Homo sapiens: one gene and its partner. The protein of the gene in region 2 interacts with the protein of the main gene of each other region in a biochemical or structural test. Each region holds a gene or a part of one and is shown on either strand. Other genes may lie near its edges.

Region 1 (7,552 bases), on a different chromosome or scaffold from region 2:
TGAAATATTTATAAAAATTGACTGCACCAAAGCAAGTTTCAATAAATAACAAAGAATCTGCTTCATATAGATCACATTCTTTGACCTTAATTCAGTTAAGTTAGACGTTAGTAACTAAAGAATAACCTCAAATACCCCTCAAATACACCTGTATTAATTCACTAGTCAAACAAGAAATCGTATCTGAAATCTAATTTTTTTTTTTTTTTAAACAGGATCTCGCTCTGTCACCCAGGCTGGAGTAGTGACATGATCATGGCTCGCTACAGTCTCAACTTCCCAGGCTCAAGTGATCCTCCCACCTCAGTCTCCTGAGTAGCTGGGCCTATAGGTGCATGTTAGCACACCTGGCTAGTTTCTAGAAAAGTTTTCTTTTGCAGAGATGGGGCCTCACTATGTTGCCCAGGCTGGTCTCAAACTCCTGGGCTCAAGTGATCCTCCCACCTTGGCCTCCCAAAGTGCTGGGATTACAGGCATAAGCCATTGTGTCCAGCCTAAAATCTAAACTTTTTTTACCTCATTGGTGATAAAAAGTCTATATATCTTGTGGAATATAGCTTGAGTGGTACTTAAAGTGAAATCTGTAGTCTTAAATGTTAAAATCAGAAAACAGATGGCTAAAAATTAATTACCTAAGGCAACAATTCAAAAAAAAAAAAAAAGAGCAACAGAATAAATCCAAAAAGAGCAGAAGCAGAAGGGAATACTATATGATATATATTAATATTACATTACATATTATATTCTCACAAACTATATAATAGTATATATTTTCTATTGTGCCATATATAACAATATAATATATAATAATATATAAGAACAAAACTTACTGGAACAGAAAAAGAAACAATATTGAAACTAAAGTCTGGTTCTTTGGAAACACTAATAGAAAGTAGAAAGAAAACATTAGTAAAAAAAAAAGATCTCTGGCACAGCTGATCCAGATAAGAAAAAATACATATAAAATGATATTTAGAATGAAAAAAAAACATTATGGATAGATAGAGCAGAGATTAAAATACATTAAGAGATAACTATGAACAGCATTTTGTCAACACATTTGAAAACCTAGATGGTATGGATAATTTCCTTGAAAAACATAGTGTATAAAAATAGATTCAAGAAGAAAACAGAAAACCTGAAGAGATCTACGAGCATTAAAGAAATGGAATCAGTAGTTAAAAATCAACCCACGAAATGTCTATCCCAGACCCAGACAATTTACCTGCAAAACTACCAAACATTCAAGGAACACATAATTCCAATCTTACACACACTGTTCCAGAAAATGAAAAAAGAAGGAACATTTACCGGTTCATTTTATGAGACCAGTATAACCAGACAAAGGCAGTAAGAAAAGGAAAAACTGCAGCCAATTTGACTTATGAACATGAATACAAAAAGAATCCTAGAATGAAATTAAATGTTGGCCATCATTCATTCATTCATCCACTCACTCATTCAGTCAATCATTATTTATTGAGCGTCAACCGTGCGCCAGCAGGCACTGTGCTAGTACATGGAGAGCAGAAAGGCACGGGAGCTTCTGGCTTAGAGGAGATGGGCAATAAAGCAAATGATCATACAGGGTAAGGTACACAGAGGACGTTCTGGTAAGGTAACTGCATATCAAAGGGCATTCGACCCTGTCAGAGAGGTCTGGGAAAGATTTCCAGGCATGTAAGTGGAGTAAGGGTGTATGTGGGAAGACTGTTTTGTAAGCTGTTGCAGGGCCTCAGGTGGGAGATCTGGGATGCAGCAGCAAGAAAGATGGATTTGAACTTGGGCTTCCTTTAGAAAGGCTAAGTGGAGATGTTGAATAGGAAATTGACCAGAGCCTGGAGCTCTTCAGGAAGGGTGGGGCTGGAGATTTCAATTTGAGTGGCATCACCATGTGTTTAAACCCATCCTGGAAGATTGAGTTTGAAGAAGGAAGTGTCCAACATTGTCTTGGGCTGTTGAGACTTTCAGAGGGTTGAGGACTGATATTGTGCTGCTTGAATTCTCCTGATGCAGGGGCTACATTGAGTGAGCTGGAGAAAAAAAATGCATAAAATAATAATAATAATAATAATAATAATAATAATAAGCTATTACAAATAATGTAGAGCAAAGGGGCAGCAAGAGGGAATTTTTTTGGACAATGAAACTGTTCTGCATCTTGATTATGGTGGTGGTTACATGACTCTATACATATGTCAAAACTCATAGGATTACAGACCAAAAAGAGTAAATATTACCGTATATAAATTAAAAATAAATGAGTAAAAACAATGTAGTAATGGAGACTTAAAATCCAGTTCTTTCTAAGCCCTGACTTTGTAACCGCAGCTCTAGCCCCTCTCTGGATTTTAAATCAGTTCTATAAGTGTCAGCTTGTGGAGGTCTATACCAGACAGGAAGGGCCCCCAACTCTCGCCTTGTGAGGGACAGAATAAACACGCAGGCAGCAGAGGCCACACGGCATTGGACTGATGGTCAGAGGGTGGGGGTGGGGTGTAGCCTGGTGAGTTTGGCACCTCTGAGACGCTGATGTATAATGAGGGGATTAGATTAGGAAAGGCCTTTCTACCTAGGATGGCCTGTGGTTCTACTGTAAAAATCCCAAACACAATACAATTAGCTCTGTTGTCTGCATTTTGTTTAGAATAATCAATCATAATAAACAATCATTGTAACAACTGGCTGTTCAACACATGAGACCCCAGATGATTTGGGAAGGAGCTTGGAGTGACAGGAAATGTTTGGGTTTGTGGTTTAAAGCCTTAGAGCACCTTCTCAATATGATTATATTGAGTAGTGATTGATAATAAACACGACTCAGGTTTACAGTGAAAAAGGAACTTTTACAACATTGGTTCACTTCAGCCTCTCACCTTCACCACATCAATCCTGTCAAGGAGGAATTACTGCAATTTAGGGAACAGGGAGACTGAGGGTCTGGTCACTCAAGGCTATGGCTGGTGTTGAGATTTTCCCAATATTCCATTTTTCCAAAGCCCACAGTGGATTTGGTTCAGTTTTGGTGTTGAGTGTATTCCTTTGTCTCCTAATCCTATGAAAATTAATGGAAAAGTGTTAATTGGGCATCAATTCATGCTTAACATTAATCTCAGTATTTGATGAACCACAACTTTATGTTGCCCCTCATGCCATATTAACTCAGTTTATTGCAACAATTTAAAACGATACAGATTTAAAACAATATGGGTAATTGTATCCGTATTGTTTCAAATGCCCCATAAATTGAAACCAGCCCGAATTTGGGCAGTCTGGAATCTGCCGGAGAAACTTTCATGCGATGCCTTTGGAAGGCTACAGACATTGTCTTTTTGGAGTTTTCAGTGCATGAAGGTATGAAACCGCATTTATTAAGCACCTACTGTATGCCAGAACCCGTGCTGCACAATACTACTGCTGCTAAGGTGGGAGTGATTCTGAAGCCTTCTGCCACCCTAGCTACCTCTGCAGGTCGTGAGGGGTCTTGGGCTATTTCAGTATCATGCACTTTACTATCCTGGCATACAAAGGCTGGGTGAGAAATAAAATATATAACGAACGGATTACACAGGGGTTTCCTGAAATAACCACCCTTCCCATCCATCCCAGAGACACCCCAAAAGTACTTCTCGTTATATACAAACATTTGCTTTGAACCTCAATCATGTGACCTTGACTCCTATAACCTATCTTATTACATTTTTAAAACACTGTATGATTAACGCGGAAACCCTTTCTTCGGCACTTTCTCGCCACTGGAATCGCGTCAGTTTCTCAAAGTTCCAAAATAACCTTTCCCGGGCACGGATTGGTACCTCTACTGGGGAAGGGCGGGGAACCGCGCAAGACGTGCCGGTGTGGAGCCAGAGCCAGAGAGAACTTCCAGCGCAAAAGGAAAATAAAACTTGTGGCTGGTGTTTGTGCAGGAGGGTCTCCGCCATCCTGAAGCCCCCCGATCCTGGGGCGTCTCGGGGGCCGCCAAAGGAGCGCCAGGGTGTGGGTTTGCTCCCGACGTCCTTGACCTAAATTTCTGAGCGGTGGCTGGAAACAGGGCACAGCGGAGGGCGGGCGGCTGGTGCCATTCCCGGATCTCGGCGGCAGGGGCCGGCAAACTTGAATGGAGAGGGCGAACTAGAGAGGGTGGGGGGCGTCTTCTCCCAGGTCCGGGTGAGGAGCCGCAGCAAGCTCCCCGCGCCTCCCCTCCCCCGATCCACCCGCCCCCCGCAGCCCATGTGATCCAGGGAAGTCGGGGTGCGCTCCCCCTCGCCCTGCGCCCTGCCGGCCCGGAGGCGGGGTCCCCTCCGCCCGCGGGGTTCGCGCGCCACCCTTGTGGGTCCGGCCGTGGGGGGCCGAGTGTGCGCGCGCGGGCAGGCGGGGGCCGCACGGGGGTGCGTGACGTCACCGGCATTGGTTACACGACGTTCTAGAACTCCGCCCCACGTGCGCCGGGGAGGAGGGGGAGGAGGAGGAGGAGATGGGGGTGGGGAGGAGGAGGGGGAGAGGTGGGGATGGGCCGGGGGGGCGGGGACGGGGGGGTGTGCGAGGCAGCGGGGCTGAGCTAAGCCGAGCCCACGTGTGACGGCTCTCGCCGCTGCCCCGGCTCCGCCGCTCGCAGAGAGATTCGGAGGAGCCCGGGCGGGGGGGAGGAGGAGGGGGAGGAGGGAGCGGAGATCTCGGGGCTCGGAGCCGGCCGCCGCTCCGCTCCGATCGCTGTGGGGCTTGGTTTTTTGGGGGTGGGGGGGCGGGGGGGCTCAGATATGGAGGCAAATGGGAGCCAAGGCACCTCGGGCAGCGCCAACGACTCCCAGCACGACCCCGGGTAAGTTTCCAGCCGCTGCCCACCGCGCCGCCTTGGGCTCGCTCTCCTTGCAGCGGCGGGGACGGCGGTGCGCGGAGCCGGGCATCTCCCGCGCCCCCCCGCCTCTCCCGCGCGCCCCCCCCGTGGAAGTTACACACCTTTGGATTGCATTTCGCCGTCACCTTCTCCCCCACCCCACCTCCCGGCTCTCGCTCGCTCGCTCCCCCCCGCTTTCCTTTTAGCTTTTGTAAGTTACACGTCAAAATGGCCGATCTGACATCGGTGCTCACTTCTGTTATGTTTTCTCCCTCTAGTAAAATGTTTATCGGTGGACTGAGCTGGCAGACCTCACCAGGTAAGGGAGGGAGGGGGGGACGCCTGGGTCCCCCCCTTCTTGGCTTCTTTATTGCTCTTTGTTATCCCGGTGTAGGAGCCCCCCCCCCCCCGCCATTGGCTCCCCACTTCTCCTGTGCAAGGTTATTTTTTTTAAATAGCAAATCCTTTCTGAGCCCTCTATGCGACCTCTGTTGCCGAATTTCCCCCGCGTGTGCAAAAAATGCAAAAACAAAACAGAATAACAACAGAAAACTACTTTTGGATTTTGTCCTTGATCAAAATTTGCATTGCTTTTTTTTTCCACACCTTCTCTCCCCCCCCCATCTCTCTCTTTCTCTCTCTACAGATAGCCTTAGAGACTATTTTAGCAAATTTGGAGAAATTAGAGAATGTATGGTCATGAGAGATCCCACTACGAAACGCTCCAGGTAAACCATTCCCTTCTGGATTTTGTCTTTATTTTAGAACAAAGTTTAAGTTTTATTTTTGGAGGTGTCTTCGGAAGTAGCTAAGCGGATTAGAATGGGGCTCAGGCGCGTGGCTGATCTCGAACGGCGCTCTATACCACCCCCACCGCCCCCTAGTAACCCCAGAGGTTATTGTTAATTGGAGCTGAACTCTGGATACAGAGATACCCATCTCTCTGCTTTTAAGTCATTTTCCCGTCGCTTCTTTTTCTCTGTTTAAAATGACATTCAGCTTCATTTACTTTCGCATAGTTTTTTTTTTTCTTTTGATCTTAATGTGTGTTTCCCCCACACTCCCAGCTCCCCAAACTCTTAAGATCCCTCTTAGAAAGATGGTGGTAAATCTCTTCTAAGTGCCGGGCTTTCTTCGGAATAAAACAAAGCGTTAAGAAAGGGAAGGGGAGGAGGAGAGGAAACTGAGGTGGCCAAAGAGTGGAGGCACCAGCATTTTCCAAGTTACCTCCACCCTCCCTGCCCCCGTTCCACTTCCCCCGTTAACCTTGATGTTTTTTCTTGCGAGGTGGAGGGCTGTAGGCAGGAGGGGAATTGGAGGAGGGGAGTGGGAGGTGGGGGTGCGTGGGGGGCAACTTTTGCTCCTCATTCAGCCTTAGGTCTCACTCCTGGTTGCTTTCAATGGTGTCACATTTTCTTGTTTGTTTTTCTCCCTCTTTGTCTCCTTTCAGAGGCTTCGGTTTCGTCACGTTCGCAGACCCAGCAAGTGTAGATAAAGTATTAGGTCAGCCCCACCATGAGTTAGATTCCAAGACGGTAGGTTGCTTTTTGTTGTTGTTGTTCGCCCCTTTTCAGGAACGATCTGGGCATTGACAGCCCCATTTAAAGGGACAGTGCCTTCTTTTGCTTCTGTGCTAGAACTGGGTAGTTTTAAACTGAGCTAGCGAGTTGGCTCAAAAGTTTGCTGCTGTGGCTGGCTTTGGGGTTTTCTTTTTAGAGCCTGTCCCATTGCAGCTTCAGAGGCTGCCAAGGTTAGGCTTGGGGAGGAGAGGGTTCGGCTCCTGGAGAGTCTGCCTTCCCGGCCTGGGGACTGTGCAGAGAAACTCCACCAGAGAGCAAATGCAACTTTTCTTTGTCAGCCAAGCACAGCACGCGTTACCAACTGTGGCTGTGGGGATCAGCTTTGAGAAGGCACAGCCTGCTTTGTGGCCAAGGGGGACAGCAGTGGGAAGGAGGGGAGAGGGCGCTAATTACAGGTCCAGGCAACAGGTTTCTCTTGGGGCACTTGGGATTTGGAATGTGCTTTGGGAAGGGAAGGGGACGCTGGCGGAGCTGAGCTGGGCATCCACTGGGGTGACTCCAGATGGCATGAAATCTAAGGCTGATAAGGCCTGGGGGTTTCAAAGTGATTTTTTTTTCCTTCCTTTTCTTTCTCAGATCCTTTCATTTGAGTATGGGTACTTTTATACATCACAAGTTTTAAAAATCCAGAGTAGAAGGGGGAAGAGTCTCCAGGCAGAGGTCAGAAGGGGAAGGGAAGAAAGAGTGTCTGTATATAACAATACATTTAATGGGAGGGGGAGTGTGCAGTGTTTTATTTAGCCCCTGTGTGGGCTTCCTGCCTCTCCTCCCTTCCCTTTATGTCTACCAGAGTTTCCCCACGGTTTTTATTAATATATATCTGCCCCAAACAGAGGCCTTAAGATGACATTGGGCTGTAGTGCTGGGTTGCATGGAACTTCACTCCTCTGTGATGGGGTAGTGGGACAAGGCCAGAAATGGGGCTCTACTTCCATCCGCCTCTTATGAAAGTGAGCAAGACATTCCCTACCTCTGGGTCTCAATTTCCTCTTCTGTAAAATAAGTGGACCAAGGTGATCTTTCAAGCCCCTTTTGGCTTTAACATTGAATGGAAGAGAAGGAAAGCAAATAAAGAAACCTGGCAACCTTCGGTGCACTTGAATTGATTTTGCAAATTCACCCTCTTTCTCTGATCAAA
Region 2 (7,021 bases):
CAGAAGCAGTTACAGAACAGTAGGGGAAACGGTGTGGACGTTCAGAACTCCACGCGCCTGCACAAAGTCGAACCTCGTTAACTACAAGGTTCGACGACACTCAGTGATGGGCAATTGAGGTCCAGGAGTTCAGAGCACACCAAGGGCTACTGCCCAGGCTACTCTGCTTGGAATGGAAAAGAGACCAAACCTAAGAGAATATTTCTAAGGACACATTGATAGGCTTCTTCCAACCCTAAGTTTCCAATCTAGGTGAGTGAGAAAGTGGTGGCATCGTGAGAGCTAGAGGGTCACTGATTAGAGAGGCAGGTGGTTCTATTAAGTATGCTTTTCCTTCCCTTCCTCCCTCCCTCCCTCCCTTCCTTCTTTTCTCTCTCTCTCTCTTTTTTTCTTTTTTTCTGTAGAGATGGTGTCTGTGTTTCCCAGGCAGGTCTCAAACTCCTGGGCTCAGGCAATCCTCCCACCTCAGCCCCTCAAAGTGCTGGGATTACAGGTGTAAGCCACCCCCTACACCTATTTTCTGTATTTTGTTGCTTTGACAACTAAAGCCTTGCTGGCCCTATAGGGACTGCCTCCCTCAGGGCTGGCCAAGTCCTAGGGATAGTGAAGGAGTTGCCTGCAAGTGTGCCTTTCATATGCAAACCAACCAATCCAGAGCCCACAGCCCACTACCTCCCCTATGGGCCCTCACACTCCAGGCCACTGTTCCCCTGCCCTAATCCCCCTAGAGCCAGGTGACAGACAACTAGAGACAGCATCCAGGCCCCAGAGCCGGCTAACATTATTCAAACAGCTAATCCTAAACCTGCTCAACCTGCCTCGCCCATTCCCTCCCACAGAAACCCTCTGCCTCCTGATTGACCCCAGAGCTTCCCCATGTGACCCCAGCCATGGTGCTGTGGCATGCCCCCTTTTCTTGGGATCTGTAACAAGTTGTCTTATCAATGACAGCCATCTTGCAATCTGTGGGCCTCTCTACACCTCAATAATAATAAAACCTATCTTTTAAAACAGTGATGCATTCAGTTGTTTCAAGTGTGTCAGGGAGGCAGTAAGGTACAAAGTAAAGAGCCAAGGAATGGAAGTCCTGAGTTCAAGTCCTAACTCTACTTCCAACTTCATACAAGTCACTTAACTTCTCAGGGGCTCCCTTTCCTAGATATACGGCAGGAGTGGCACATGTGTACGTTGCGTGTGAATTTAATGAGATAATGAACAGAAAGTGCTTTCTAAACTCTCAAGTTGAGGTGTCAGTGTAATTCCCTTTCCTGGTGTATTGTATAATCCTTAGCTCCAAGAACCACCTCATAAACCTCTCTTGGGCCCATCACCCTGTGGTTAGCACACAGTCAGTGAAGAAAGTACCCTGAGTGGCAGTGCCTCAGATGTAAAGGGTGCAAATGTCTCACTCCCTCCTTCCCCCCTTTGTGTCCTCAGCCTTACCTCCCGGGTGGAGCTCTCCACAAATGGCCCCCCAAACATGGCAGCCATCCAGTCACAGCTGGAAATCAACAGGGGCTTGTGGGCGCTGATGGTGCCATCATCCAGGATGAAGGTCACATCTGTCCAGAAGAAGCATCACAGGAGGACTGGTGAAAGAAGCTGGGAGAACAAGCCCCAAGGGGAGCCACGGAGCCTCCTCCTGAACCCAGAAGATTCGGGGCACGGAACAAACCCGCTCCCAGCTGGGGAAAACCAGGCTTCAAGAGCATGGCAGCCGCAGCTCCAGGACACCAGGAGCTGAGACAGACAGGCAATGCTAATAGCACCAATGCAGAACCCCCTTGCTTTCCAAGCCTGTTCCATACCTGAGAAGGTGCCTTTTGCCAAGCACTCCTTAACCCGGTTGGTCCGGCGGACGTGGAAGGCCTTGGTGATCTCCTGGTTCATGAAGGCCTCATTGTTGAGAATGTTGGCCACCATCATGCGCAGATCAAAGACCTCGAGCAGCTCAGCAATGTGGGCAATGTGCATGAGGTCACGCTCGTTCTCATCTAGCTCCCCCGTGTACAGGTACTTGAGGACAGCCCGGAAGGGCCCCGGCTGGATGGAACTGTCCATCTTCACCACCACCATCAGCCGGGATTTGTAGGTGAGAGGATCTTCTGCCATCTCTTCCTGGATGCTCACAAAAGCTCGGCTCCAGGAAGACAGCACACGACCCCTGCCCGGTAGGTACCCTGTTCCGTTGCCCCGTAAGATCCCGTCGCTGGTGGAAGCACGGAGGCCAGCAGGACCGGAGCCCCCAGCCTCATCCACGCTCTCGCACACGTCAAAGCTGGCTGCTCGGAGCAGGAAGTCTCGCCCATGGTGGTGGTGGTGATGGTGGTGGTGTTGATCAGAGTGGCCCTGGTGGTCCTCTGGGTGGGTGCCCCCTGGCTCCGAGGGGCCCCCCAGCTCCCCCTCACTCAGGTCCATGAGGAACAGGTCATAGAACTTGGAGGAAGAGGTGGAGAGGTAGATCTTGTGGGCAAAGATGCGCACCCGCTCCTGCAGCACCAGGATGACGTCCGCGCAGAGCGGGTCCTCCAGGAGGTGGGCGGGGCACTCCTCGCTGCTGGAGGGAGGGTCGGGCACCACGATGATCGGGGGCGGTGGCTTGGGGGGTAGGAAGGGTGCCTGCAGCAGAGGCCGCTGCACATTGCGGAGGTGGGACTTCCAGAACTGCAGGTGGCGGCGGGAGATGAGTGCAGCTCGGATGGCGTTGTCAAAGACGTCCTTGATGCCGAACTGGGCCACCACGCTGGTCTCATAGTAGGGGATGCCCAGCTCCTTGGCCACCTCCCGACCCTTCTCTGGGGGCAGGATTTCATTAGGTTTGATGGGCCTGGTAGGTTCAAGAAGGAAACCAAGCTTGTGTTGGTGGTGGAGGGAGGCTGCCTGTTCTTCCACAGGCTGGAGGGACTCTGCTCAGGATCTGGGTGCCAATCCCCACCCACTCCTGCCCTGCTCTGTCTGGCCAAATCCCATCAAGCTCCTTCAAGGTCCACTCCAAGCCCTTTTTCTTCCAGAAAGCTTTCCCTACTATGCCAGGCCCCAGTGACCTCCCCAGTACAAAGCCGTGACAGCACTGCCTCTCTGGCAATTAGCAGGCAATGCTTCACATGGGTATTTAACATGCTCACATATTTAGTTTATCCCTCAGCAAAATTATAGGACTTTTTCATGCAAATATCACCTCTTCCTCTCTATTTTTCTTCATGATGCTTTACATAGCACTGCCCACACCAGAGGTGTGCAACAGGTATATGAATGAATGAATGAATGAGCATGCTTGTTGACTCCCAATGCAAGCTTGCTCCAAATGGAGGGAGAGATATGAGGCTCAGTGGAATTCCCCCAGGGCTGAGCAGGGAGCCATGGTGAGGCACCCATCCATGTCTGTCTCCTTGGTACCAGCACCTCCTACCTAGCCAAGGGTCGCCTAGCCCTGTTGACAGCCTCCAGGTCAGCGTAGCGCAGGTCCAACTGGCAGCCCACCAAGATGACAGGTGCTCGGGGGCAGAAGTGCTTGATTTCTGGGTACCACATGGTCTTGACATGGTGGAGGGAATTGGGGTTGGCAATGGAGAAGCACAGAACCACCACATCAGATCTGCGGGTGGGAAAGTAAGGTTACGGGCAGAGAAACAAGTGGTAGCTTACCTGGTCCTGGAACATCTGCCCCACCCCAGCCCTGTACAGTCCCACACCTGGCTTAGGTATCTGCTCACGTGCTCTTGACACAAAACATATAATCACAATACCTCCAATTTATGTGCCACTTTAGAGCTCAAGACTTGTTTTGGCCTCACAGCTATTTTGTGAGTTAGAAATGGCTGTTTTCACCACTTCACAGCTGAGAAACATCATCTCAGAGCTACTAGGCACAGAGCTGGAACTCAATCCAGGCTTCCTGATCCCGGACCCAGGCTCCCTTCACTGCACCAGGCTGCCCCAGCCCCCATGAGGCTCTGCCAGAGCTGTTTTCTCCACTTCTTCTTGCCAGCTGAAATTTCACAGAGGTGCTTTGTTCCTGGGAAAAGCAGGGAAAAACCCACCCTGTTGGTTCTCTGCAGGCGGCTAGAGGCCTTCCCTACCTCCCATAAGCAAAGCGACGGTCTTTGTGGTGGTCTCCAAAGGTGTCCCAGAGGCGCAGAGAGACGCTGACATCATCTACCACGTCTCGGGAGCGTTCCAGCACCTGGGGACGGGGAGGAAGAGTGGGACTCGAAGGCAGCAGTTTTGGGGACCTCTGCGTGCCACCTCAGGATAAGCGCCGGCTGACACCTGGGGGCCCCAGACATCACTGGGCATGGAGGGACAAGGCTGGCATCGCCCACTGTGCACCCTGCACAACTTTCATCCACGTAAAATCTCTGTAGAATCTATAACAAGGGTGGCCTCCAAGCTGACCAGGAGTGGAAGAGACCCTAAGCAGGTGGAAGAGACACTAAGAGGGTAGCAGAGACCCTAAGGGGGTGGAAGAGACCCTAAGGGACTGCTATGGGTGTGGAAGGGGCCTCTTTGGGAGCTGACCCTTGTTCCTGGCTTTCCTTGCAAACTGCATGTTTGTGAGCCTCTGGTCTTTTGCTATCAGCTGCCAGCTTCTTTGCTCCTCTCAGCTTGTATCTCTTCCAAGCCCCAGCCCTCCAGTGCTCCCCATTACTTAAGGCTGTGACTACATACAATGCGGTACCCCAGACAAAGATGGAGTCCCAGGCACCAGCTCAGTCCCTGAAAACACAACCAGCCAGAGACACTTCCCTGGGGCAGACTTGGCTTAAACCTCTCTCCAGGGGCTCCTTCCTCTTCAGCTGCCCCCAACCCATCCTGTCCCACCCCTAGAGGGCTCCCGTGAGCTCTGGAGACACCAAGCTATGCCTCAGGAAGCCCCCAAGCCCAGACTCATGGCGTGGACCCCCAGCCAGGTAGTCCTGCAGCCTTACCTCCTGGCACACACGATATTGGTCGATGGCCCATACTGTGGGCACATGCGTGGCCAGCAGCTGGTACTGGGTGAGGGTGGCATTGCAAGCGCGGGCACAGATGAGCCTGGTCTTACCCACGGCGTTGTCCCCCACCACAACGCACTTGATGGTCTCTACGTTTGGCCTTTCATAATCCATGTCAGAATCCATTAAACGGGACCTGAGGGAGAGGAGGGAGGCGGTCAGGACGGCATGGCATGCCAGCTCGCCGTGGGCCAGGGCCAGCACCCGCAGCTCTCCTCAGCCAGGCTGCCCCCTCTGCAAGCCCCGGAGCTGACAGGAGGAGGAAGGAGTGGGCAACGTTCTGGGCAAGAGCTCTGCGAGGGTCCAAGGGGCCAGGAGCCCATTCAGGCTGAGAGGAGCAGTGTCACCAGATGGGCCACCTGTCCCCTTCCTGCTCCCACGATCCTCCAGCTGTGCGTCTGGATGAAGGAGACCTACGCGAGATCACCAGTGGAGCTTGCCGAGGCCCTGCCCTGTCCCCTCTCCAGAGAGGGCAGCTCACTCATCTGCTCTCCTCCTCCTTCCCCGGCAGAGCAGTGGCAGCAGAACAACAAACAGCTGAGAGAAGCAGAGTCGGCCACGTCCCCACCCCTTCCCAGCATGCCTGAGGGCAGGGCACTTTAAAATTTAATGGACTTGTCAGAACTGGGCAGCAGCTCTCCTGGCCTCCACTCTTTCCCTTGCCCTCTCTGGTGGTGGTGGATTTCCAAGCCCTAGCCTGCCTAAGTGCATGCTTCAACCCCAGACCCCAGTCCCCTTTATGGAGATGCAAGAGTTTTTCCTCCCAGCCTCTCTAGGATGGGGAGGTTCCTGGATGCACCTGACCAGCCCAGGGGCCTCCCTTTCTCTATTCGGGGTCTGTCCTGTTGCCCATGTGTCATGCTCAGCTACAGGTCCAGCTTTCAGATGCGGGTGAGGGGAACCACAGGCCTATGATGATACAGTCAGTGGCCAATGGGCCTCTACTTCCCCTACGGGGGGCTGTCCTCCCAGCACCCTGCCCCCAGCGTCAGAGAGTGAGATCCACCTCCACCCTCTTCTGCCCTTCCCATTCCTAGGGAGGATGATCCTCAGGCTGAAGATCCCAGGCAGCTGGCACTCCTAGGTGATGTTCACTAAACTGGCTACATGGGCGATGGGATTGCCAGAAAGCAAAAGATCAGAAATTTGAGCCTGAATTTCTGGGCAAATGCTTGCCTCAGTTGCCTTCGATGTTGAGCAGAGAGGAAGTGGCTTGTCCACCCCCAGAGAGGGATGGCTTGAATGAACAAACAGAAGGCACTTCTGTAGTCAGATGTCATGTTCGTGTTTAAAAATCTGTCGCCAGGAGGCCCTGGCCTCGGCATCCACCCTCCTGGGATTAGGGAGCAGGGGCAGGGCCAGCGTGATTAGGACGCTTGGTTTCGCCAGCGTCATCTGCCCGCCCCACTCACATTCCTGTGTGTATGAAAGTCGTCTGGGGGGGCTTTAGCAGCCCGGAGTCATCCCTCCTAGGCTAAGGAAGGCTGAGCTCTGAGTGCTGGAGGCTGCCCAGGCACCCTGGCTGCTGAGCCATCCAGCCCAGAGCCAGGCCACCAGCAACAACAGGGAGGCTCCATTCCTGCTGGGCTGTAACTGGATGCCAGCATGCAGGGATGCAGACCGAAATATCCAAGTAACGATAGCAACTGGGATCCGTGCGAGTGGATGCATCTCAGCAACCTAAGCAAAAAGTGCAGCAAGGACTTCTCAATGAGACAACCTCCTCCGCCTTTTTGGAATGTTACAGGATCTGGACCCTTCAACGAGGTCTCCATGCAGTGCCCTCATGGTCTCCAGGGCAACTGTACCACCCCTTCTCTCTCCTAACCCTCCCTCAGCAGACAACCGTTTTTTGTTTTTGTATTTTTTTGAGACGGAGTTTTGCGCTTGACACCCAGGCTGGAGTGCAGTGGCATGATCTCGGCTCACTGCAGCCTCTGCCTCCTGGGTTCAAGTGATTCTCCTGCCTCAGCCTCCCAGGTAGCTGGGATTACAGGTGTGTGCCACTATGCCGGCTAATTTTGTAT

Evidence for each region. Proteins that work in one complex are often made in the same cells at the same time.
Region 1: the proteins of RHOBTB2 (region 2) and MSI2 form a complex in vitro, tested with the Homo sapiens proteins (one study listed by BioGRID).

Annotation. Positions count from the first base shown.
Region 1 is NC_000017.11:57,251,986-57,259,537, forward strand, and holds the start of MSI2 (RNA-binding protein Musashi homolog 2), read left to right. Parts: upstream 1-4,537; 5' UTR 4,538-4,757; coding exon 4,758-4,819; intron 4,820-4,956; exon of another isoform or gene 4,957-5,011; intron 5,012-5,033; exon of another isoform or gene 5,034-5,062; coding exon of another isoform or gene 5,063-5,112; coding exon 5,113-5,153; intron 5,154-5,480; coding exon 5,481-5,562; intron 5,563-6,284; coding exon 6,285-6,369; intron 6,370-7,552.
Region 2 is NC_000008.11:23,002,534-23,009,554, reverse strand, and holds part of RHOBTB2 (rho-related BTB domain-containing protein 2), read right to left. Parts: intron 5,131-7,021; coding exon of another isoform or gene 5,121-5,130; coding exon 4,929-5,120; intron 4,184-4,928; coding exon 4,080-4,183; intron 3,596-4,079; coding exon 3,410-3,595; intron 2,828-3,409; coding exon 1,809-2,827; intron 1,563-1,808; coding exon 1,444-1,562; intron 1-1,443. UniProt on the Homo sapiens protein: Regulator of cell proliferation and apoptosis. It likely functions as a substrate-adapter that recruits key substrates, e.g. MSI2, to CUL3-based ubiquitin ligase complexes for degradation. Required for MSI2 ubiquitination and degradation.